Regions from separate parts of the Homo sapiens genome. Here regions 2, 3, 4 and 5 are each linked to region 1. Evidence: fine-mapped expression QTL. A gene starts in region 1. Each other region holds a variant in brackets. All regions are shown on one strand. Distances are from middle to middle.

What was found.
Region 2: its variant is fine-mapped to the expression of HIVEP1 in whole blood (INTERVAL, PIP 0.98).
Region 3: its variant is fine-mapped to the expression of HIVEP1 in whole blood (TOPMed, PIP above 0.99).
Region 4: its variant is fine-mapped to the expression of HIVEP1 in T cells (TOPMed, PIP above 0.99). The same link has a PIP of 0.9 or more in blood mononuclear cells and whole blood.
Region 5: its variant is fine-mapped to the expression of HIVEP1 in nasal epithelium (TOPMed, PIP above 0.99).

The regions. Positions count from the first base shown.
Region 1 is chr6:12,009,626-12,014,729 of GRCh38, forward strand. It overlaps HIVEP1 (HIVEP zinc finger 1), which reads left to right and starts at 2,687. Exons shown (of 9, transcript NM_002114.4): 1 at 2,687-2,941. RefSeq lists an enhancer at 738-1,282 and silencers at 1,612-2,521, 2,702-2,841.
Region 2 is chr6:11,602,844-11,607,947 of GRCh38, forward strand. No RefSeq gene overlaps it. Among named protein-coding and RNA genes, the nearest start is that of TMEM170B, 68 kb to the left of the region's middle. The variant AAAG/A (reference allele first, on the strand shown) is at 2,146.
Region 3 is chr6:11,974,307-11,979,410 of GRCh38, forward strand. No RefSeq gene overlaps it. Among named protein-coding and RNA genes, the nearest start is that of HIVEP1, 35 kb to the right of the region's middle. RefSeq lists an enhancer at 4,148-4,377. The variant C/G (reference allele first, on the strand shown) is at 3,096.
Region 4 is chr6:11,707,739-11,712,842 of GRCh38, forward strand. LOC340184 (a long non-coding RNA gene) reads left to right here. Exons shown (of 3, transcript XR_001743973.2): 3 at 2,345-2,661. LOC124900221 (small nucleolar RNA SNORA67) reads left to right here and starts at 2,081; the gene lies at 2,081-2,222. RefSeq lists an enhancer at 3,902-3,951. The variant G/A (reference allele first, on the strand shown) is at 2,583.
Region 5 is chr6:11,959,034-11,964,137 of GRCh38, forward strand. It overlaps LOC107986570 (a long non-coding RNA gene), which reads left to right. Exons shown (of 4, transcript XR_001743976.2): 4 at 1,523-1,969. Among named protein-coding and RNA genes, the nearest start is that of HIVEP1, 51 kb to the right of the region's middle. The variant A/G (reference allele first, on the strand shown) is at 2,354.

The DNA of each region.
Region 1 (5,104 bases):
ATATTGGATTTGCCACAAAACAAGCCTAAAGAAGCTACTTTATAGTATAGCCAGGTTTCCCTGCATCCTGATATCTGGGAAGAATTGTAGGCAGAATTAGGAAAAGAAACTGCATTTAGAAAATTCAAAAACTTACTAGGAAACTATTCTGTATTGTATATATTTCAAATAAAAGTTTAATATCGGTTTGCTGCTCAAGGAAATAGTTGAAATGTCAAAATTTACCTATCGTAATTCGAAATTGCATGTATGTTTTGTTAGAAAGTTCGTAGTAATGCTGAATCCTACATAAACATTGTGTTGACAGTATGTTGTGCTCAACAATTATTGGGTTAAACGTTATTCATTCAGTTAGCATTTTTCACTTCCAAAGTGATACAAACTTCACTCATTATCACATTACCTTTCTCCTGACAGATTAATAGCTATACGTTCACAGTTAAATGCATGTTTACTTTTGGATTCAAATAACCCAGTTGGGAAGTTACATTATATACTTTTTTGGTGATTGCAACCTATTGGATATCATTTCATTTCACAAATGAGAGATGGTTATAGCACAATGAAAATAAAAATTGCATTATTTCATCGTAGGGTTAGCATTAGTATGCTAGACATAATTGTACATGTACACAGTTGGATGATCTTTGCTTTTATAACCAAATTTACTTTGTAGTAGGCATATTTCTCCCTTTACATGATATTATTTTTGGCTACACACTCGCCATTACTGAGTATTCCATTTTTAATCATTCCCATTCTGGTGGTTTGAGCTTTTCTTAGCTCAAATGAGCCAGAGGTACGATTTCCTCAGGGGAATTTTAGGGGTCAACTCCAGCAGGAAAAACCTAGACGTCGTTATGGAAGCCCAAGGGAACAAAACAATTCAAGTTTGCACAGATGGCCAGCTGTCTTAGTGGTTGTATGGTCGTTTAGCATTTTTATTCCTTAAAAGGGGAAACCAGTTTAGTTTCATCAGGGATTTTTTTTTTTTTGCATCAATTTTGTTTCACCTTATTCCTCTCAAGTTTGAGGTGGCCCGTTAAACCAGCCACTTTTGCTTCTTGAGGTGGACCTGTGGAATTTCTGTGCCCCAAACTGCGAACGTTCTTTAGGTCTAACCCTGAAAACCTTCGTTACCCTGGTCCAGCCCCTCTTCACTGCTTTGCCATGGATTTCCACTCCTTGCTTTCTCTACTGCTTTCTAGCAGCCGGGGTCACACCTTGGTTCATGCTAATTACTCCCTCTTCCCCTTTCACGCTCTCCCCTCTTCCCTGGAGCCCGGTCCGACGACCAGCCCCGCACCCCCCTTTTCTGTCCCCGAAGTCCCCTCCCGGGTTGGCCCTATAAGCTGTCAGGCTGGCAGGCAGGGGTTAATTGCGCTCGCAGCTTCGGCACTGGGAAGCACCAGCGGGGCTTTGGAGCGGCCTCTGGAATAACCTTGGCTTTCCTCGCTCTTTTAATAGAACATCCGCCACCAAAAAGTGGTTTCAGTTCAGGGTTAACATGTCCCCTTCCACTCTCCAAACCAACACCCTGCCCCCTCCGTTTTTTTAAAAGTTGTTTTTCAAAGTTAATGAGTTTTAAGTTTCACAATGACTTTCCCCTTCCTTCTACGCGTTGCTGAGGAAACCCCCTTGGGGTCCCCCCCCCCCCCCGCCTCCCCCTCCCCCATTCTGCCCGGGCGAGGGGCGGGGCCGGGAGACCCCATGACGTCAGCGGCCGGCCCACATCCTGCTGTAGAAAGTAAAGAGACGGTAAAGAGAAACTACGGCCCCGCCCGTCCCGTCCCTCTTCCCGGACCAACCGCCCCCAACTGAGCGACCCCGCCAGGCCTTCCCGGGGCCGCGTGACTGGCCGGGCCCGCCCCTCCGCCCCCGCCGTGTGCTGGTTCCCCAGGCGTCGCGACCCAGGGCTCCCGCCCCCCGCGTCCCTAACCCCGCCCCTCCCCCCCGGGCTGCGCTGCCACCTCCTCCCGCGTCCCCCTCCCGTCCCTGCGGCGGCTCGGCCGGGCGGGGCGGGGAGGGGCGAAGCGGCGGGTAGGTGGCGGGGCCGGCGCGGTCTGGGGCCCGCCCCGCCGGGGAGACCCGGGGCACTGGCTCCGGGTTCGTGCCGGGCCGGGCGCCCATCCAGTCCCTACACCCGGTCAGAGCTGGCGGCCGCGCCGGCCCAGCTGGGCCCCGGCGCCTGGGCGTCCCGCGCCCCTCGCCCCGGCCTCAACCCCAGCCCCCGCGGGGACGCCCCCTCCCCCGCCCACGCGTCGCCGCCCGCGGCCTCCCCTCCTCCCGCCCCCGGGGATCCCCTGCCGCCCCGCCCACCCGCGGGAAAGCCTCCGACCTTCGCCCTGCCTCCCCCGCGCCGCCCGGCCCGCGTTCCTCCCGCCGGCCCCAAAGACGCTAAACGTGCCCTACTCTGCCCCGGGGGAGAGGTAAAGCCCGCGCCCGTCCTTCCCGCCCCGGGCCCCGCGGCCCCAGGGTCTGTCCGCCCGCCCCGCCGCGGCGCGCGCCCCCCAGCCCGGCTGCCCGGCTCCCTGGCGGCCGCGATCATGCCGTGGCTCCGGGCGCCGGCGAGCTTCGCCGCCTCCTCCGCCCGGCGGCTGCGGCCCCCGCCCGCGCGCCCCGCGCTCCCCCCCCCGCCCCCCGGCCCGCTCCCCTGTTTAATATTTCAGTGCTGGGTGGTGTGAGCGCCAGTCGCCGGCCTTCAGCGTGGCGGCTGCTGGGCGGCGGCAGGGTGGCGGACGGAGCGGGGGACCGGGGAGCGGCGGCCGCCGGAGGAGGTTATGTTTGTGTTTGGGGTTGTCAAGTGAAGGAGGGATCCCAGGCGCCGCCGCCGCCGCCGCGCGGGGGTCGCGGAGATCCCGAGCCGCGGCCGCCGCCATCAGCAGCGCAGCTCCAGGGCCGGCTGCAGCGGCAGCGGCTCCGCCGGGCGTCCTGGCAGCAGGTTCGGCGCGGGCTCCGCGGCGGGGGCGCTGCAGCTGGGGAGGGCGGCGGGGCGGAGGGGGGGGGGGGCAGGAGCACATCCCTTCGGCGGGCGGGGGGCGTGCGGGCGCGCGTGTGTGTGTGTGTGTGCGTGTGTGTGCAACCGCCGACCTTGCAGAGGGGATGGCTGCGTGCGGGAGACCCTTGGCACTTCTGGGCGCCCTCGCCGCGCGCGAGCCGAGCAGGTACAGAGGGACCCAGCCTCCCCAGCCGCCTTCCAGCCGCAGACGCATTTTGCAAGAGGGTGGGGGGTGAAAGAGACCAGGCCTCGGCATCCCAACCTCCCGGCTTTGTGGGTTTCTTTCCCTTTCGTTCTTTGCTCTAAGTGCCTGTTTACTCCCGGCCACCTGGGTAGTTTCTTTCCGGGTTGGGAGTGCGCGCCAGCTGCAGTTGGGAAGGGGGCGGTGGGTTGGGGTGCGGGTCGGCTCGGGCTCGCCTTGGGGTCGGGCTCGGGAAGGAGTTGCTGGCTGGAGAGGGGAGGGGGCGGCGGCGGAGCAGGCGGCGAGGAGGAGTCTCAGGGCTGCCGCGCTCGCCTCATCTCGTCCTCCTCCTCCTCAGCTCTCTGCATCCACTCCAGGCTCCTTCCTGAGCTGGCACTTCCATTCCCCCCCTCCTCCTGGCATGCGAAGCGCTTTGTTCAGTGCAGCGTTGCAGAGGGGTTTTCCCAGGCTCCGCCCTCCACATTCATTCATGTTTTTTCTCCTTGCAACTGTCTTTACGCTTTTTGATCGTGTCATGTTTTTGCTCCATGTAGTATTTATTTCTTTCCCGTAAAGGAACGGTTTATCACTCGTCCTAGTCGCTACAATGCTGCTGTCTTTGGAAATACCCACTTCCCCCCACAAGGATTTAAATATGGGATGGACAGCTAGGGACAGTGGGTAGGCAATGAACGGGGTAGCAGAAAGCCTTTACGGACAGGGAATGTGCATATTTTACATTTATGCTCCGGATCCCATGGGATCACATGATTGGATTACAGTCAGAGTTCACGCTTTAAAAACTTCCAAATATCGTTACCATTTAAAAGCTTTAAGTTTAACAACGAACGTAGTTAAGCATTCATGCAATTTATTTGGTTCAGCTGTGTCTCAATTCTTTATTGAATCAGAACCTTCCTGAATTAGATAGTGGATGTTTCTTTAGAGCAAGGAGCTGAGAAACCCTATCTTTTATAGATCACTTAGCACAATGCTAGATGAAATACTTAGACCATCATTTTTTTTTGTATTATTTTACCATGTAGTTAAAAATTGCAAATAATTTTGTGCTGAGCTGACATACAGCCAGATCAGGGATAAAATACTGAAGTTAATCGTGGCCTTCTTTACCTTCTGTTTCTTTGCTGTAATGAAACCATAAATTTCTAAAACCTTATACTGGGATGTTAGACACATTCCTTCCCATATAGGCTTTCTTAAGGAGAATTAATAGTTCAGCGTTTTTGTGTGACAGGCAAAGCGTCTACAATGTTTAGTTTAGTCCTTATAACAACCTTCTGATGTGGATAATATTTCCTAATTTTACAGTTGGGAAATCTGATCTTCAGAGAGGTTAAGTAACCTGAACAAGGCCACACAGTAAGGGGTAAAGCCTGGCTTTGAACCCACTCCGGTTTGACACCAAGATAAGTCGTCATGACTTGCTGCGCCTCTTGAAAGAAATCCTGAAAGTAGATGTTATCAGCTCCACAAAATAAGCACTGGATATAACTGAGTCATGCAGTACCACATTCTTTAGTTGTTTATCTTGGACAAGTTACTTATCCAATTTTTTTTTAATCTGTAAAATGAATAAATGATAGCTACCTTCTTAGTTAACAGATTAAATTAGGGAATGTGTAGAAAGTACACAGGCACATAGTAGGTGCTCATAAGTGTTCTCTTGTCTTCTACAGTACCACTAATAACAAAAGCTTTAAGCCTTCCTTACTGTTCTATTCTTGTGTCTTTGCTTAATGACTAAACATTGTTTCATGTTTAACAGTGACAGTGGGCTTTGCTTCTCAGTTTTCTTGCAGTAAGTTAAAATTTCAGCTTTAAGATCCTTGAGAATCTTGTGGAAGAGCCTGAGGTGGCTGATTTGGGGAGATAGGTGATTCGGTTTTGGGTCATTCTTATCTTGG
Region 2 (5,104 bases), 410 kb before region 1:
ACGTTTCCTCAATCATGATCCTCCCCCTCCCCATGCCACGTTAGCCTCCCCTTTTTCAAACTGTGTTTCCCGGGCTGCAGTGGCACTTCTCTGCCTTGATTTTTCTCATACCCTTGAAATCATTCCTGTGTCTTCTTTCCTAATCTTCCTGCCCTTCCCACTCCCGCTTCTTTCCAAATGTACAGGCTTTGTTCATTTTCTCTATATGTACATTCTAGCCTTATTTTTCTTTCTTCTTTGGACTTTATCTGTTACCTCTGCGAATGGCCCCTGGAAGTGGGGATGATATCAGTGGGTGTGCACCAGCCCAGCTGTGCCCATTGTTCACAGTATGCCCATTTCCATGGCTATTGCCTGTGCCTTACTGGTTATTTGATATTTAGAATATTTGTCCTGCCTAGGAGTCCTTCCTCCAAGATACCTCAAAATCTGTAATTATATAAGACAGGAGAGGTTCTGAAGCAACAGCTATGAGTCAAGAAAAATAGCCACTCAAAAGACTTTTCATTTAGTTCATTTAGTAAGAATTGCTTCTTTGAGATCCTGCTCACAAGGCCTGGGTGACAAAAGCCCACTTCCCCACCCTCTTCTGCTCCTCTCTCCCAATGGAAGTCACTTCTTCCTTCTTTGTGCTCCTACAGCACTTTATTTGGGTCTGTAATTACACATCATTATTAATAATGTACACTCTGCCCTTTATTATTTGTGTATGTCTGTCTTTATCTCTGCAATGACTATTGGTTTTTCATTTCCTGTAGTGATTTAAAATACGTACCCATCATGGGATACATGTTGACTGAATCCACCTGCATTGGGATGACTGCTGCAGAAGGCATTGACTCTGTTTCATCCCTGCACTTATTTGGGCTCATGTGCAATGCTGAGCTACCCAGAGGACATCTGTGTGAGTTCCAGCAGCAGCAGCCAATCAGCTAATCATCCTTTTTCCAGTGCCAGGCGAGGTTGACTGGGACCCTGAGTTTGGTTCTACCGTTTGGAAATAACACAGAGGATTACTTCTTGGGGTCTCTCAGCCAACCAAAGTCACTTCTTAAGACTGGGCCTTTCTACAGAGGAATCTTAGGAGCAGAGGCTCTTAGATCAGATGAGAAAAGGGTGATGGAGAATCTGGTTTTCCTTCTCAGATCGTTCCTTTCAAGTCCCATCCTAAAGACTTCACCAACGCTGAGGTCCAACTATCCTGATCAGAATTCAAACCAGGTTCCCATGAGCACTGGCTCATCCACAAAGTTAGTAGGCTTGGTAATGGCCAGGCCTTGAATTCCCAGAGTCTTGGATTGACCCAACCAGGGAGTAGTTGGAGAGACACATGACAAGGGCCATGCCCTGGAAAGCTGGGCCAGAGCACCTATCAGTTGATCACAATTGCAGGGCATGAGGTGAGAGAGAAAAGTAACAGAGTAACCAAGAAGTCGCCCTCCTAAGTTGGAGCAAGGTACCAAATGACCTAAAGTATTGGGGTGGCAGGACTGACTGTGCAGGGCACCCTGTCTGGGGCTGATGGACTGGACATAGAAGGATGAGGAAGTTGTCAGCACCAGAGAGTTGATGCTTATCTCCAGGAGATCAGCTGGGTGGTACGGGGCTGACCATAGAGTTAGGACGGGTGCTTCCTCACAGGGTAGCATGGAAGAGAAGGTTTTATTGCAGTAAGAAATTTAATCCCCTGGCAAAAGCAGTAATACCAGGATGACTTAAACTAGCTGGTAAAGTGGGAAGGAGGGAAGGGAGATGGAAGGGGTGAGGACAGACGGATCAGAATTTGTGCTTTGGGCAAGTCATACATACATACGATTTTGTGGATTTTGTCATGGTTAGAGGCAGGAGGGCCGTGATCAGCAGGTTTTCACTATTACGCGGGTCCCTAGACACATTCTTGACTTTCAAAATTTCATCACAGATATGTGAAAGATTCTGTGGAAGAATATAATAGCAAAAAAAAGAAGAAGAAGAGGGAGGGGAGAGGAGGAGGGGGAAGGAGGAGGGGGGAGGAGAAGGGGAGAGGAGAAGGGGGGTAGGGGGAGGAAGGCGAGGGGGACGAGGAGGGGAAGGGGAGGAGGGTGGGGGAGGAAGAGCGGAGGGGGAGGAAGGGGGGGTGAGGAGGGGGAGGAGGAGGAGAAGAAG[AAAG/A]AAGAGGAAGAAGAAACAGCAAACTAAGGATTCTGCCTCTAAACTGACAGTAGTCAATTTTTATCAGCTTCCAGAAGCTTCTTTTTTTGAATACTCAGTTAAACATGCATCACCTTTGTTTTAGGAACTTGGAATAGAAAACAGAGTACAAAGAACTCATCAGAACACCACAGACAGGACCTCTTGATCACTGGAGAAGCTATTCAGGCAGCCACTGTCCCCAGAGAACCCCAGGAAAGAACAAAAACAGGGGTGTCATTTTGGAGCCTTCAGTCAAGAATCATCTCCTGTTCTTGGCTGGGCTGCCATGAGGGTGGGGTGCACACAGAGCCCTGGGAAAGGAAGAAAACACGGTTGCAACACCACTATTTTGTTTCTTCTAACACCCTCCTTTTTCCCCACTCACATTTGAGCACTTACGGGCATCATTTGTTCTAAAACAAAGGAAGAAAAATATATCTGTTATGAGTTCCCTCTGTGCTTGACTGAGTTACCTGGCATTGGGATGGCTTGTTTTCTGGGATGCCCAGAGCTGTACACATTCCTTTCTGGGGTGAATACTTCGTATAGAGAGACATAAACAGCCAACTAGGCTGCAGGGAGTAAACCCTGTTACTAACTTTTCTTTCTTTGGTGCTACATTCCTGCGGAGATAAATATATAGAAAGACAGACAGATTATAAAGGAGGAAGGGCATTGTGTCAGCATGAGGGCTCCAAGAGAACAAAAAGGGTTATCGTGTGCAAAGGTTGAAAATAGAATTTAAAGCTATCAGGACTGGGGAAAGAGTTGAGGCCTCCCAGGAAAAATCTGCAAAGAAAACTTGAACCTTCCAGGAAAACAAGCCCTGGGTAGAGTTGGGTGAAACTGAAACCTGAAAATCCATTTTCCAGAAATGCGATTGGGCAGAGAGGAGGGAAGCCACTACTATCAAGTTTTTCCCAGAGCAAGCAAGGCACGCTGGCTTTGTACAAAGAGGCTTATTTAGAAGCTGCCCTGAGCTGAATGCAGGCAGGTGGGGCAGGGTGGGAGGGTGGGATGGGTCGTTGAAATGAGCCATCCTAACCTTTCAGACAGAAACAGTGCAGCCTAGCTGCTCTGAGGTGCATGTTTCTAAAACAAGACCTGGAACATTAATTTTACATTTCAGTCTCTTTGTAAAAAGCAGATGCTCCTCGCCCACCCCCTTGTTTTTTTTTGGCAAGCTTGTGAAAATCCAACGAACCAAGTCAAGGCTGTCCGCTAGCCACGGGTGCCTTTATCTTGTGGAGTATCTGTTCCTTTGTGGATCAAGCATGGAATGAAAACCGTGCTGAAGAAAGGTCGCTTCTCATTTTAGACTCCATTTCAATGGGTAGTTAACCTCTGAGTCAACCGACTCTGTACCCATGTTCAATTTCCTCCGCCTGTTGGGCTCTTCCATTTACCCTCTTTTATAATTAGAGTACATCTTGTTTACAGTGCACAAAGCTGGTTTAAGATCCAGTTGGCCATGTGCCCTCTCGTTACAGGACCGTGCTCAGAACAGTCAGCTGTGAGTGCAGCCAGTGGGATGAAAAAAACTAAGGGAAGGAAGCTGCCCTTTAAGGAACCTCGGCCTTACTGATTAAAGTAATAATTAAGCCATTATATCTGTTGGGGAGCTATTTGGGCTTGCCTGCTACCTTTTCCAACAAAAGCCCTCAGCCAGAGATTCCAGCCAAGCACCTCATTATCATGTGGGTGCCAGGGCGGCATGCCAGGATCGGCACCCACCCCAGGCAACATGGTTTAAATTTTAAACACCTGTCATCTCCCTGCCTCCATGTATCATTCATTTTCAGAGGGGAAAGTGACCCTAACAGGAAGTGGGGCTGCCTGATTCTGGGTTTGCCTTTGAAAGCCAGAAATGACCCTTCTCCTGAAATTTTATTCCAAATTTAATTTGAAGCTATCTCAGTCTAGAAATAGATTTGCATTGGCATCTCTTGTTGCAGTTGGTAAGGAAAGGAATTTAGGATTCAATTAGAATTGGTCTTCATTCTTAACAAGATTGTTGTCTTAAAGACAAGAAATATATAGCATGTCTCACTGCATCCCTCCACTCCCCACCATGGCAAAAAGGGCCCTGGCATGCATATGTGATTTTGTGACATGCAAAGATCCACTTTTACAACTCCATGGAGGCATATCTTATTTAGAGAACACTAAGGTAGTTTAAGGCTCTCACTGGCCACTTGCCTTCTTAAAACAGAGACAACCTATGGATTAGAGAGGAAGCAAGACTGGAGAAGGCAGTTTGCACCGATTGGGGCAGGGCAGGTAGAGGAGTGAGCATGGTTGTAATAAACTGGGTGGAATTTAAGGTCTCAGTCCAAAGGCATCCCATCTTGCTCCTTCTGGACCCCGTCTCAAGCCTGGCTCCAGCTCCTGAGTCCCACGGCTCTCCAAGGCCTCTTTCTGTTCATCACAGCCTACGGAGAGAGATGCAAAGTGGTTTGTGTTTATTTTAGAAATAATCTCAACGTTGCCAGGAAAAGGCTTTCTGGAAAATGCTGCAGAACTAAAGCTGGTCCAGTAGAAACCGGTGTAAGTGCAAAGAGCAGAGCCAGCTCCTCCCCAGCTCTTTCCCCAGGCTGTTCTTCCTGCTTTTTGATCTCAGCCTCACTCTACTCCATCCCTTCTTGATCCAAGTCCAGAGTCTCTTTCACACCAGCCACGCTGCCAGCATTGTCGGGAGGTTTGATGTGGTGTGAATTCCTGCCCCTGGGAGATGGACGGAGAAATTCACAGAATCTTGGGAAAAGAGAGCTTGGGAAAATCCTGAAGTCTCTCTTTGCAGCCTTTCTTCTACCAACAGACAAGATGGAAACTGGCCATTTCAGAGCACTGGCTTCAAGGATGTCTAAGGGTAGAGATTCCTTGGGCTTGTGGGCAGGGGCTCATTTCTGTGTGTTGTTCCAGATGGTCCAGGTTC
Region 3 (5,104 bases), 35 kb before region 1:
TATCTCTAGGTGTGTCAGTGTTTTCTATTTTTAGAAGACTCTCAAAGATGAAAATCATGATTTATTTATGTGTAATGGAATAACATTTGGTGGATAAATCTACAAACAATTCTCTTTGCACTAATTAGAAGAGTTATTAATTTTTTGTCTTCAGATACATAGTGCTGTGTAATTATTGAGTGAGCCTGTTTAAGAATATGGATGGTCCGAACACCTCCCAAATAGAAAGGGACCATCCTCAGGCCTGAATGACACTTTGAGGTGTTACTGCCAGTGAGTGAAAATATCTGACCTGCCAGTATCGCAGGAGAGTACCATAGAACTTTTTATTCTGCATAGCCATTAGGGAACAAACCATCCTATAGAGGACAGGAGTGTTGATCTTTGACTACGAACATTTAAAATCTTTGAACTTTATAAAAAAAAAACAAGGTGAAAATGCTTGAATGCTTACATACATTATGTGGTATATAATTAAACCTTTTTGGGTGTAAAAGTATTATTTCAGCTCACAAACATGTTTTGTGTTCAAGATAGTGCATGATGTCTTAGACATACAGAAATGGGATTAAGGCTTTTTCTCAATGAGCTTACACTCTGATGATGGAGTAGCTATATCAGTTTTTTACAGAAAGAGGTAAACAAAGATATAGATGTAAACTGTAATCTGTATGTTAAAGTAAAGACACAAAGAGATATCTAGAATGACTCCTGGGTTTCTGGTCCAAGTTACTGTGTAGACTGTGGAGCTGTTTGCTGTGATGGGAATGAGAATGTCCCCCCAAGGATGAGCACTAAGGGAGTGATGACGAGCTCACTTGTGAGTTCTAGAGATGATGATGAAGATGACGTGGGATGTATGGCCCCAAGAGTGGCCCTAACATTGACTTATCGAGAAAGTCATTGACTTGAGCATGCATTTTTGGCATCTAGCTTATTATTATAAAAATGAAACAAGGCTGGGAGTGGTGGCTCATGCCTATAATCCCAACAGTTTGGGAGGCTGAGGCTGGTGGGTCACCTGAGGTCAGAAGTTTGAGACCAGCCTGACCAACATGGTGAAACGCTGTCTCTACTAAAAAAAAAATTTAAAAATTAGCTGGTCATGGTGGTGCATGCCTGTAATCCCAGATACTCGGGAGGCTGAGGCAGGAGTATCGCTTGAACCTGGGAGGCAGAGGTTGCGGTGAACGGGGACCACACCACTACATTCCAGTCCGGGCGACAGAGCAAGACTCCGTCTCAGAAAAAAAAAAAAAAAGAAAAGAAAAATAAAAGAAACAAAATCTTTCGTATACCACCCACACACATTCACATATTACTCATGTTTCAGAGGACTTTGTATGTGTCCTTCAGTGCACGTGGCTGTTTGTCCCCTCAGAGTAGGAAGCAGCTGTTCTAACTTCCGTCTTCGCAGAAGGTTGTCATCTCCTCTGTGGTGAGGGCTCTGCAGAGTCACTGCTTGTTTGACCACATTCAGATTGCGGCCAGGGCTAAAGTCACAGCTTACCTCTTCAGCTCTCTACCGAACTGTATTTTCCTTGACCTGTTTCTTGCCAATCTTTTAATGTTTCTCATCCTCCAAGTTAACAACCCAATAAAAATTAGTCTTTTGTTAACATGCACCACAATGCTTCTCTTCTCAGAGGCCAAAGGACCTGCCTCAGCAACAGGGCTCTCACCTGCACTTGGCATGTTTAGAGTTAGGAGTTCCCACTCCACTGCCTTCTTGCCTCTGGCGAGGGCGAAATGAGGGGTGTTGTCCTGGCTCTTCCCAATTTCAGTCATTTCACAAGTCTGCAGTGTTCAAGTGCCTCAACTTGCAAAAACCATGGTTTTATAACATGTTAATCTTGAATTTGGTGTTTTCACTAAAGGCAAGCATCTTCAACTATAAAAGTTTTATTTTATTTATTTATTTATGTATTTATTTACTTTTTACCTCAGATTCTGCCAAGAAGTTCTTGAAACGATGTTTCTTGTGCCATAATAAACCTGGAAAAATAGCAAATAGATACTACACTAGTTTCATATTATGAAGAGATTTGTATGTGCTGTTCAGGAGGCTGAACTGTGTTTAGAAGGCAAAGAAAAGCCCTAGCAGGTTTCAGATAGAGAGCAACAGAGATCTTCCTCTTTCCCTTGCTCACCTCTTCCCAGGAGTAAAGAAGCCAGTGTAATACATTTCCTTCTGAGAACAAAGCACTGTTTTCTGGCCTCCACTGTTTCTCTGAAAGTGGCTTCTCTGTGCTTTTAGTTTTTCTAGGAGTTGAGAGAAAGACCACTCCAGAGGACAGTGAGATTAGCCCCGAATGGGGGCCCTTTTGCTTTGTCCACACCAGATCCATCCCTGAGTGCACTGTGATCAGCCACTTCTCTATGTTTTTCTGATATTTTCACTTCCTGCTTGCCCCCTTCTCCCCCACAGTGGACATATGATGTCTTATTCTTTCCACTCAGCTCAACTGTGTCCCTTTGGGGAGAATCAACACTTTTCTCATCTGATTTGCCATATAATTGATCAGATATCTCCATTATAGTTCCTATCATACAGTGTTGTGATTAGTGTATGTAACTATCACATGGCCAGGGAGACCTACTCTAGGTATCCCCAGAAACCAGCAAAGAACATGATACTTCTTGGCCTCAGCATGTACCTGTTGAATAGAAGGAACTAATTGAATTAAATAAGGATAACTTGGCTGGCATTTTTCTTCCTTTGAACATTATAAGTACTTGTGGGAAAAGGTAATATTATCAGCATCCTCAAACCAGAAGAGATGATAGACAATGAAATATGACAAAAGCATACTGCAAATATTACAATTGCAGCATTTGTTCTCCCTACAATACCAAATGATATGCAGTAAAAAGACTTAATCCAGGGAGGAATCAGGATTTACACAAAGTAAATATTGAGAAAAGGAGTGACTTAAACAGCAATGAAGAAAAAAAAAAGAATTATCTGCATGCTACCATTCACCTCAGTTCAGGGCCTGTCTTTTCCCAAAATTTGTTTTTAAGTTTTTGTGTGGAGTTCTTTATCACACAGATCACCGCGCTTGGTTAGGCCTGGCCCTCACTCTGATGTCAGA[C/G]ATGACACCTCTTGGTCAAGCTGGGACCAGTAGAGTGATTAGTTTCGTTGGTGTACATCTGTTCCACTTCCTTCAATTCCCTGTTTCTGATTATTTTTTTCTGCATCTTCCTAAGATGCATTTTTTTTTCTTTTTTTTCCGAGACAGAGTCTTGCTCCTATCGCCCAGACTGGAGTGCAGTGGTGTGATCTCGGCTCACTGCAACCTCCACCTCCCAGGTTCAAGTGATTCTCCTGCCTCAGCCTCCTGAGTAGTTGGGATTACAGGTGTGCACCACCATGCCCAGCTAATTTTTGTATTTTTAGTAGAGACGGAGTTTCACCATGTTGGCCAGACTGGTCTCAAACTCCTGATGGTAAGTGATCCGCCTACCTCGGCCTCCCAAAATGCTAGAATTAGAGGCATGCACCACTGTGCCCAACCCTAAAATGCATTTTCTATTATTTATTCTCCATGACTTTGTTAATTTCCCCTTCTCTTTTTATATGTTATTGTCTATATGATACTGGCTAAATTTCGAGATGATCATTTGGAAATGTCAGCATTATCTATACATCATTTTTGGACAATATGTTCAAACACAATTATAGTAGGGTTTATCTATTACTTTATACATGTTGCTTAGAAAAAATGCATATTAGGAATTTCTCAAGTAATTTTAAATTTTAAAGGCAACCAGATCTTAGCACTTCTGTTTTAAAATAAACAACAGTAAATAATTGTATTTCATTGTGATACCAGAAGATCTTCTAAAATGTTTGTATATTTGATATGTATACATAGCATATATATGCCATGTATATTTATTTGCCACATATATACTAAAAAGTCATATACATTTATGTATTTGCCACACTCACTTGTATGTGTATGTGTATGTGTATGTGTGTGGTTGTGTGTGTATTTGTCACTTCCCTCATTTGTCATTTGCCTCTTAACTATAAATGGCATACTTGGGTTACCATTGTTTATAGTGCTTATCTTATTTAACTGATCAGTATTTTCTTTACCAGCTTGCCTTTACATGTCAGAAAAAGAGTTACCATAAACTTTAGGTTCCAGGGATCCTCACTTATATGGGCCATTTTCAAGGCTCTGGAAGGAGTCCTAGTCATGTGTTATTCTGGTCATAAATCTTCCAAAAGTCAGATACTTTAACAACATTCAGTTTCTTTTCACTTTTACTTCCGGTCCATTACACTGAACTTCATGTTAAATGACATCAGAGACTAAAGGCAGTTAGAGGTCTAACTAAGGGAAATTGAACTTAAGATACATTTAGTTTAGTAGTATGCATGTATGTAGTTTGCTCTCATTTCTGAGTACAATTTAGTTCTTTCTAGCTATGTCTCTGTAGCAATGACTTCCAGGAATAACAATATGCTGGAAATATACAGACCTGGGAGCTAGTCTGCAAAATTATAAGCACAGGGTTTGGTTTTCATCAATACCTAGCCATAACAGAAATTTTCTCCTGTTAATGCACAAAAATAATTCCAACTTGATAATGCAATATATATAATTTTGTATATGTCCATACAATAAAAGTATGTGCTGTGTATTTCAATATGTCAGTAGAAACAATTCTGACATTTAGAAGCAAAATATAGCCAAAAACCCCTCACCCAATACTGAAAACAGAATTCATTAAAATAAAGAGATAAATTTGAAATGTAAGTGGTGAATACACCATAGAATTGTTTGATTTTCCAGTTAATAAAGAGGAGTGTAACAAGCTGAAAAAAAAATACATTTTTCACTAATTTGTCAGGAAATACAAACATCAAGAAAGATAAATACAAATAATGTAAAAAAATACAACATTGCAATACCACCAAGGACAGTTTGTTCAATTAGTGTAACCAATTCAAAGAATGTCTTAAGGTTAGACTTTATAGAGGAGAACTTGAAATGCCCCAAGGTCTTCCACTTCATATATGAAGAAACTTAGAGGTTTTCCCAATTCAGCAACAACACTAAAAATTTACATGATATTATCTATTATGAGT
Region 4 (5,104 bases), 300 kb before region 1:
GTCAGACGTGGTGGCTCACGCATGTAATCTCAGCACTTTGGGAGGCTGAGGCAAGCAGATTGCTTGAGGCCAGCAGTTCAAGACCAGCCTGGCCAACATGGTGAAAACCCGTCTCTACTAAAAATACAAAAACTATCTGGGCATGATGGCACATGCCTGTAATTCCATCCTCTTGGGAGGCTGAAGCATGAGAATTGCTTGAACCTGGGAGGCAGAGGTTGCAGTGAGCCGAGATTGCACCACTGCACTCCAGCTTGGGTGATAGAATGAGACTCCGGCTCAAAAAATAAATAAATAAAAGACATAAAGCAAGTTTAAATTCCTGTAGTGCCAGCCAGATAATCAAGGCTGGAAACAGAGTGGCACATCACAGCTCTGTCCCCTCTGTCCACCCCTCCAAGGGCACGCAGAATTTAGTTGACCTACCAGCTGCCAAAATCATGGGCCAACTTCATTTTGGGGTGCTCTACCCACCAAGTAGCTCTCTCAGGGAGGGGTGCAGAACAATCATAACCTGCATCTATTGGCAGCTCACACGGTGAAAAATTATGAACTAGGCAAGTTTTGTCCTTGGAGTCTGCAGCTGACCCTTCCGCACCTGTTCCTTTACTAACAATATCCTCATTTTCGCTCTGCCAAGCACGCCCTCCCTCACATTAAAACTTGCTTTCAAATCATCAGATATCCTTCACTGAGAATTGAACATGCATGAGTTTCATAGGTCACTTCTTTCAGAAGTATTTACATGTTAAATCTGGCTCTCCATATGAAATGGGCGGCTTTATTGGTGAAAGAATTTTTTTGTACATTAGCAAGATATTTAGGGTGGCAGTGAGAACAGAGGCCCTTTTCATGGCCCCGAAATAACTACACCATGCAAGAGGCTGACGACATCATGGTAACGATGATGTGCTAGTCAGACTAGACTGGGCCTTAATGATAAACACTTGCCATCCGTCAGGAAGGGGTGAGAAGTCACCTAAGGTGAAATGAATTATGATGTAAACAAGGTTTGTCTTCAACATCCCCCCACCTCCTGTTTAAGGATCAGTCTTCCGGACTGGGACCCTAGTAGCTCATAGGCTCTCCTTTGAGTCATTAGGGCCATCTAGTCATCCACTCTAGAGCTTCCCTGCACGCAAGCCATTTATCCTCCAGGCCACTCCTCATCTCCTTCTCCTTTTCATCAAATGTATCTGCTATGCGTCCTATTCTATCAATGTTCATTCACTACCAGTCCACATGAAACTGCAATTTGCTCGTCACTGTAAATAGAATTGTGGTATGTAAGATGGAGAGAGTATCTGAAATGAAACAATAACTCTAATGTTGAGACTATCAGCTTCCAGGGAAGCCTAGGGTGGAAGATAACTGGTGATGATGCCTGTAAGGTTAAGAAGCTATAAGGAATCCTCAAGTCCGCCTGTATTTTTGAGTACTTTCTAATGGTGCAGAGTTAGGCTTTGTTGGAGATATAAAGAGGTAGACACGGCCCCTCATCCCGGGAGTTTGCAATCAAGCAGGTGGGATGGTGAATTAGGCCATTCTTGCATTGCTATAAAGAAATACCTGAAGCTGGGTAATTTATAAAGAAAAGAGGTTTGATTGGCTCACAGTTCTGCAGGCTTTACAGGAAGAATGGTGCTGGCATCTCCTGGGCTTCTGGGGAGGCCTCAGGAAGCTTACAATCACGGCAGAAGGTGAAGGGGGAGCAGGCACGTTATATAGTGAGAACAGGAGCAAGAGAGATGGGAGGAGGAGGGGCCACACACTTTTAGACAACCAGATCTCGCCAGAACTCACTATGGCGAGGCCAGCCCCAAGAAGATGGCATTAAATCATTCATGAGAAATCCACTCCCATGATCCAAACACCTCCCACCAGGCCCCACCTCCAACACTGGGTATCATGATTCAACACGAGATTTCGAGGAAACAACACCCAAACTATATCAGACGGAGATCTTGGGAGCCAGGCACTTGCATCCACCACTTTAAATAATCTTATTATTTAATTGTGGTGGTATCATTATCTAACTTTGCAGACAAGGAACCAAGGCTCAGAGGAGTAAACTATTTTTATCCAAGGTGAGTCTCTCTCCAAGGGGCTGACTAGTGCCTCTCTTAGGACAGTAGCAAGTTGGAATAAAATCTGGCATGCCTAAGGTCTTTAAGGAACAGGGGATGCTTACTTCTTTTGCGTTCCTCTGGCGGCCTACATAGCATACTTAAGCTCCTTCTGGATAGACTGTGTCCTCTTATTCACATGCTGAAGTTGTTATATATTTTTAAACAAATAAAAAGTGAATAATACATTTTTCTAAAAAGTAACTGATTTTCTCTAGGTTCCATACAGATAGCCAGCCATGGGAGTCAGAATTTGAACTCAGATCTGGTCTGGTTCTGAAGCCTCTCTTCTTTCCAGCTGTGAGACAAAGGAGCAAATATGAGAAGCACCTTTTGCTCACTTCTGCTTGCCAGCAGAATTTCACAAAAGCCCTGGACTGTGAAGATGTTTGGAAAGATGCTTTGAAGACAAAACCTTTAACAGGGTTAGTGTTTATGCCTCTGTAATCTACAACC[G/A]GATGCGCTCTTACACCCAAGCCTTGATGGGATTCTGCTGCGACGGAAATTCTGAGCAAATTTGATGTGATTGTGCAGGTACTGAACCTCCACTTCCTGTCTGTAAGCAGTGGGCTGAAATCCTGGGCTGGAGCAGTCTCATAGGATCTGACAGGCTGTTGCCAGGCTGTAGGCCTTGGTCTGTAGTCCTCAGTAAGACTTCTGAATACAACTAACTTTAATTCTTTAAAAGCTTGACTGTTTTCTTTAGTCGGCATGGCATTCCATACCATTCCAGAAACAGAAGCCAGGAGGATACGTGAAGGAGAGAGCAATGGCATAGTGTGTGAAGCTGATTAGCTGTTAACTAGCAGAACTGAGAGAAGGCAGCCGGCCAAATGCCCCGGAGGGGCAAGGAAAAGCTTTTTCAGAGAGTTGGGAAGTGGCACTCCAGTGAGGTCGGAAGCCATGAAGGTTGACTTATTTATTCCACAGTAGCTACAAGAAGAGGGGTCTTTCTAGGGAGTGTGACCAGTTTAAGCAAAGGCTTGGGAGGAGGAATAATAACGTGCTGGAAGTGGGAAAGGGGACCTGGTTAAGGGGCTGAAAGTTATTCCTTGTGGATCACCTTCTCATCACACGCTCTTTGACCTCATTGTAGTTCAATGGAGGGAAAGAGAGTCAAAAGCAGGAGGGAAGTTTGTTTCTAAGCGGACAGGGGCTCAGCAAACCCAGTCTTCCCCGCAGTCTTACCTGGAGCCATTGCCTGGGGAAGAGGGTGTTCAGGCCACAGTATCCCAAGGCTGGGGGCACCTTTGCTCAGAAGCCCCCTGTGGTGCTGCTCCTCAAGAGCCTCCTGGGAGGAAGGGCCAGGGAGCCAGGCGGTTCTCCCTTCCCCTTCTGGAATCCTGGCCAGTTTCCATGTACATAACCCAGCTTAATCCATAGAAACAGGAGCTGCAAGGCATGTTCTTTCTCTTTTTTTCCTCTCCAAGACACGGAAACCTTTATTTTCTCCCTACATCACAAACCGGTACTGTTAAATAATATTGGATAATTGCACCTGTCGTACTCCCCATATTGTGCTGGGGAAAAATAATTGCTGGTTTTCTGCTTTGCCGTTTAGCTGTGACTCCGTCATTTGACTCGGAGCATGTCATTTTCTCCCATTTTAGACCGTGTACAGTCAAACCCTGTGAAAGGACTCACAGATAGCGGCCCTGCGTGTATGAGTGGGCGCGGGCCTCATTCAGCAACGATTTCTAATTTATACAGCATTGAATATCCACAGCTATAAATAAACAGTTCTGACTGGCTTTGCTGCCTACTCAAATGCTTTATTAAAAAAAAAAAAGTCACCAGCAACTGCATGAGAAAGGAAAACAAGAATGTCTGGATGTGGATTCTGGCTTCTGAATCCTGGGCTTGGGAGTGGAGACGCCCCACCTTGGGAGCGGCTCAGTGCTCAGCCCCTCCAGTTTTTGGAAGGCCTGGCCTCCTCGCTCCTCGCTCAGCCCCTCACGCTCCCCACGTGTGGGTGCAATGTGTTTGGGGATTACAGTATATGAAACTGGCTTCCTGTTATGACAAGTATTGCAAGTGAGTAGGTGTGGAGGAGCTGAAAATAGCTTAAGAAATGTAGGACCCTTCTGGGGAGAGAATGGGGTTAAGGCATTGTTTAGGCAACAAGACGAATCTTCTACCCAAATTCAAAATTGGTTTCAAATGTGAGACAGCAACACTGGAACAGAAGCATGAGTATAGGCCAGTCCCTGGGGTAGTGGTGGCAGCGTCCTTCCTCCTCCTGTAACGGGGACAGTTTCCACCAATTTGGGATCTCTTGACCACCTTCTTTTGTCCAGCTCTGCAAGATGTGGACACATTTCTGTTTTGTTTTTTAAATAAAGTTTTTGGATGACCCGGTACTGCTTTGCTCTGTAAGAAAGAGGAAGGAAAGTGGGCTCAGGAGTCAACTATCCATGTGACCTTGGACTTGTCATTTCCCTGCTCTGAACGCAGAGGTGTGCTGGAGCCAGTTTGCACAACAGGCTCTCGAGGACTAAGTGGTTGTCCACATCTCTTCCCAACTGTACATTCAGCAACGTGCTGCCAGCTTGAAAAAGGCCATGGGGAGAGTGTTTACACCATGGAAATGAGCACACATTATCAATCAGAGCCTGACATCTTTTCCCCAGAGAGCTGGTTGTTAAACCTTTCCCAGCACACCACCCTCAGAAACTCAGTTTGCTCATTTGTAAAATGAGAACGTAACTCATCTCCTACTTACGAAGTTTCCGTGGGCTAGAATAAGTGGGAGTGGTGATGAATTACTTGACACTACACAAATATTGCTGGTATCATCATGTGGTTGCTATAGTTGTCATTTTCTATTAAGGGCCTAACATAGTGCTATGCAATCTGCAAATACCATATACCTTTTAGCAAATGTTTAATCAGTGTGTTATTGTTTTGTTGTGTATCTTTTCTTAAGCTACTGCAGCACCGAGCATGCCCTTGTGTGCTTAGGCATGTGCTCAATGGGA
Region 5 (5,104 bases), 51 kb before region 1:
AACTTCCAAAACATCTCTCCAGTCATTCTACTGAGTTCTACCTTCCATGCTTGGTCCCACCACTGACACGTCTCACCAGGACAACCACAATGACCTCCCAACCTTCTCTCAGCCTTCACTTCTTTCCCCACGGCCCATCCACATAACAACCACAGCGATCTTTTAAAAATTTAAATAGCCTTGTCCATTTCTGTTTAAGGGAATTGTGCTGCCTTGACCCTCAAGACAGCAGTTCTCGCCCAGACACACTCTCATTCTCCACCTTCTTCGTCAGTTGCTCTCCTTACTTTCCAAGCCAGCGCTGCTTCCTTTCCCTGTCCGCTTCCCTCCTCAGAGACTTCATGCTCACTTTCCCCAGATTTTTACTGCATTGATTCCTTCTCATCATTCATGCCTCAATTTAAATATTTATCAGTGACTGCTTCCCTGATCACACAATCTAAAATAGCCCCATTTCCATCATTTTGATCCCTGATCTTTCCCTTTATAGCACTTACAGACATGTATAATTATATATTCACTTGAGTGTATGCTTGTTTAATGACCCCTCCCCCAACCCCCACTTTCCCGTATAGACTGAAGGGAGGCAGGAACCGTGCCTGTCTCGTCTTCTATTATGTTCCCAGTGCTGAGCCTTGTATCTGGCATGCAGTAGGTGTTCAATGAATGAATGAGTAAACAAGCCAGAATAATCGGACCCAGAAATATGCTGAAGGGATATAAATGCCTAGCAAGAAGAAGGTTAGTAGGAATAACTATTATTTGTGTGATTTCAAGATACTAATGATGATATAGGGATAGATATAGGGCCCTTTTGGGAAGCCAAATGGCTGCACAAACAGTGTGGTAGGAACACAGTGTGGCCACTGTGTCTGCGCTGCACTGATTGGATCTAAGGATAATTTTGTAAACGCACCCATGGTGATTAGCAATTGGCTCATACTGAATAAACTCCTGACAGATTTATGTGTGCACTGCAATGCCAACTTATTAATTCATAATAATAATATAACAAGTCAACATGCAGCTCAATCACCACCTATAGGAGAGAGACAGGTAGCTAAATTATATCCAAATGATTAACTGCTCAGAAAAGATTCCTGGTCACAGATTACTATGCAGCTGAGATACCATCACCTTAGTCTAAGCTACCGTTGTCTTATGTCTGGTTTCTTGCAACAGCCTCCTGACTGTTCTCTGCACTGCCTGCCTCTCAAATCCATAAGGCACCCAGCAACAAAAGTGTTCCTTTTAAAACGCAAATCCAATCAGGTCCCTCCTCTATTCAAAACCCTTCAGTAGCTCCCCATTATATGAGAAGGAGCTCCAGCCCTGACTTGTGGTTTGTAAGGTTTGGTATGATCAGGCCCCTGCCTCCTCTCCAGCCTCATCAAGTGCCCCTCTCCCCAGCACTCCAGACTCCCCAACACAGAGGTGTGTGTTCAGATTTGAGAGTCTGACTATAGAAATGGGCAATGGCTAGATCATAAATAAAAACAGAATTCTGACCCTCAACCTGCAGCAACCAGCCCAGGAAGCCAGCCCATTATCCAGAGGAACCAACCAAGGAAGCCAGCCTGCTCTCTAGAAGCTAGACTTGTAGGAAGCCAGACCACTGTCTCTAGCAACTGATCCAGGAAGACAGAAAAGAACACCTCAATAACAGGACCAAAGTGGCCAGGACTTGACTGATGAGTAACTGACAGCTTCCCTAATTTTTGGCCCTACTTCCAACAGAAGAACAACCAGAGAAAGCCAAGTATGCACCTGATGCCCCACTTCCAGTGAGCCGCCTCCAGCTTCCCACGCCAACAGCTTCCAATCAGCACACTTTCGGAGCCTTCCCTTTTCTCCACGATGAAAGCTTCCCCACTCCTCTGACTGCCTTTGAGCCTCTGCCAAAACTCAAGTGATGGTAGCCGACTCCCTGCTACCGCAAGCTTGGAATAAACAGCCTTTGCTTTTCTCATCTGCTTTGTCTTCGTTTATTTCCACAAGATCCTTCACAGTGAGAAGCTGCTTCCTCCCTTGGAGCCTTTCTAACCCTGCACCCTCTGCCTGGAATGCTTCCTCCACCCTCCACGTGGTCAAACCTCTCCCTGTTTTCCAGATTTCAACTTGTGAATTGAAGACACCTTCTCTAACCACTCTGTAACCACTCCCTTCTCAGCCTCTTTTTTGGTTCCCTTACAGTGCGTGCCACAACTTGCAATCATTTCGTTTATTTTTTTGGTTTGCCTCTTTTCTACCTATCATCACCACTAGAATGAAAGCTTCATGAGGGTAGGGCTTCACTTCCGTTCAATCGGATCCTGAGGACCTAGAATAGAACCTTACAAACAGCAGGTACTGC[A/G]GAACTATGTTGAAAGATTGACAGGGTGAATAAATGATTGCATGCCTAAGGTAAATGCAGACTCAGTGGAAAAAACAATTGTGGCCAGCAACCCATTGAAAAAACCGGATTTTGAATGAGTCCACAGTGCTGCAGATTTGCTGATCTCCTTTGTGGACCGGGTGCAGGGTTGGGAGTTGGCTTCCTGTTGATCCCCTGTGATATACAACGCTCCATATCAGAGCAGTGGATGACGAACAGACATGGCCCCAGGATGCAGGGCTGAGTCTCAAAGTCTCATAAAGTCTCCAAACTGAGCATTTGGGTTACACAAGTTCTCTGGCCATCAAATGTTAGCCCTCCAGGCCTTCCCAGAATCCAGACCTCAATGTCAGCTTCATCTATCCAAACTGCTGAGAGAAGAGGTGGAATTTCACGGCTTAATAAGCCACAGGCCTTGTCCTTGAAGGACTTATCAAATCTAATCATTGGCCACAATTTCTTTGCAGCCAAGTGCATCAGTCAGGGCTCACCAGAGAAATAGAACCAACAGGATATACACTAAGAGATTTAATTTCAGGAATTGCCTCACACAATTGGGAGGGCTGGCAGGTTCAAAATATGCAGGGTAGGCCCGAATGTTGGAAGCTCAGACAGAATTTCTATGTTAGAGTCTTAGGCAGAATTCCTTCCTCTCTAGGAAGCCTCATTTTTCCTCTTCAGGCCTTCAACCAATTAGGTAAGGCCCACCCACGTTACTGAGAGCAATCTCCCTTACACAGAGTCACCTGATTGTAGATATGAACCACTTCTGCAAAATAATTTTCATAGGCCGGGTGCAGTGGTTCATGCCTGTAATCCCAGCACTTTGGGAGGCAGAGGAGGGCCGATCACCTGAGGTCAGTTGTTTGAGACCAGCCTGGCCAACATGGTGAAACCCCATCTCCACTAAAAGTACAAGAAAAAAAAATTAGCTGGGTGTGGTGGAGCATACCTGTAATCCCAGCTACTCGGGAGGCTGAGGCAGGAGAATCGCTTGAACCCAGGAGGCGGAGATTGCAGTGAGCTGAGATCGCACTACTGCACTCCAGCCTGGGCGACAAGAGTGAAACTCCATCTCAAAATAATAATAATTTTCATAGAAGGATCTAGATTAGTGTTTGCCCCAAAAGCTAGGCCCTATAGCCTAGCCAAGGAGACACATAAAATTGATCATCACATCAAGGTTTCAATGTTAAATCCCTCATTTTTTTTAAGTGAGTAAGATTATGACGTTCTCTGCTTAACACCCTCTGGGGCTGGCCATCACTCTCAGTTTAAATTTGCAGTCCCCTATCACGACTGGAAATGGCACAGCCTGATGTGACTCAGAAGGCACCTCTCTGGCCTGATCTCCTGCTGCCATACTTGTCACTATTGTACAGGGAGCACCTCAGCTGTCCCAGTCACCATCCTGCCTCAAAGCCTTGCAAGTTTCCTCCCTTTGCCTGGATGTCTTCTCTCTATGCCTATGGCTAACTCCTTCTAGAATTCAAGCCTCAGCTTAAATGTTTCCTCCCTTAAATGAGGGTTAGCTACTATGCTGCATAAAGTGACTCTCTTTAACTCTTGATCACATCACCTGCTGTCTCCTTCATCACCACATCACTATTTGTAACCACTGTTCATATAACTTGCCTAAAATTTAATTGGTGATTCTCAACCCGGGGCAAGTTTGGCCTCAGGTGACATTTGGCAATGTCTGGAGACTTTTTAAAAAACATACTATATTTATTCATTTATTTATTAAATATGAATTTTATTTTCTAGAGCAGTTTTAAGTTTTTAGCAAAATTAAGCAGAGGGTACAGAGAGTTCCTGTAGACCCTCTGCCCCCACACATGCTCAGTGCCCACCATTTTCAGCATCCCCCACCTGCGTGGTACATTTTTTTTACAATCAATGAGCCTGTGATGACACATCATTATCACCCAGAGTCAACAGTTTTCATCAAAGTTTCCTCCTGGTTTTGTACATTCTGTGTTTTTTGACGAGTCTAATGACATGTATCTAGCATTGTAGTATCATACAGAATAGTTTCACTGCCCTAAGAAGAATCCTATGTGGTCCACCCATTCATCCTTCTCTCCCCCACCAACCTCTGGTAATGACAGAAATTTTTACTGTCGCCATAGTTTTGCTTTTTCAGAATGTCATGGATTTGGAATCATACAGTATGCAGCCATTTCCAATTGGTTTCTGTGATGGTTAATTTTAGCCGTCAACTCAACTGGATTAAGGGGTACTCAGATAGCTGATAAAGCATTATTTCTGGGTATGTCTGTGAAGATGTTTCCAGAAGAGGTTGGCATTTGAGTCAGTAGACTAAGGGAGATCTGCCCTCACCAATGTGGGCAGTGCTCAGATAGGACAAGCAGGCAGAGGGAAGGTGAATTCTCTCTCTCTCTCTCTCTCTGTCTCTCCTGGAGCTGGGGCACCCTCCTCCTGCCCTTGGACATCAGAATTCCAGGTTCTATAGTCTTTAGACTTAAGGACTTGCATCAGCAATCCTTCAGTTTTCAGGCCTTTGGCCTCTAACAGAGTTATGCCATCAAACTCCTTGGTTCTGAGGCCTTTGGACCTGGACTGAGCCATGCTATCAGCTTCCCTGGTTCTCCAGCTTATAAATGGCCTATTGTGGGATTTCTCAGTCACCATAATTATGCAAGCCAATTTTCATAGTAAATCCCCTATTATCTATCTAGCTGTCTGTCTGTCTATCTGTCTATCCCA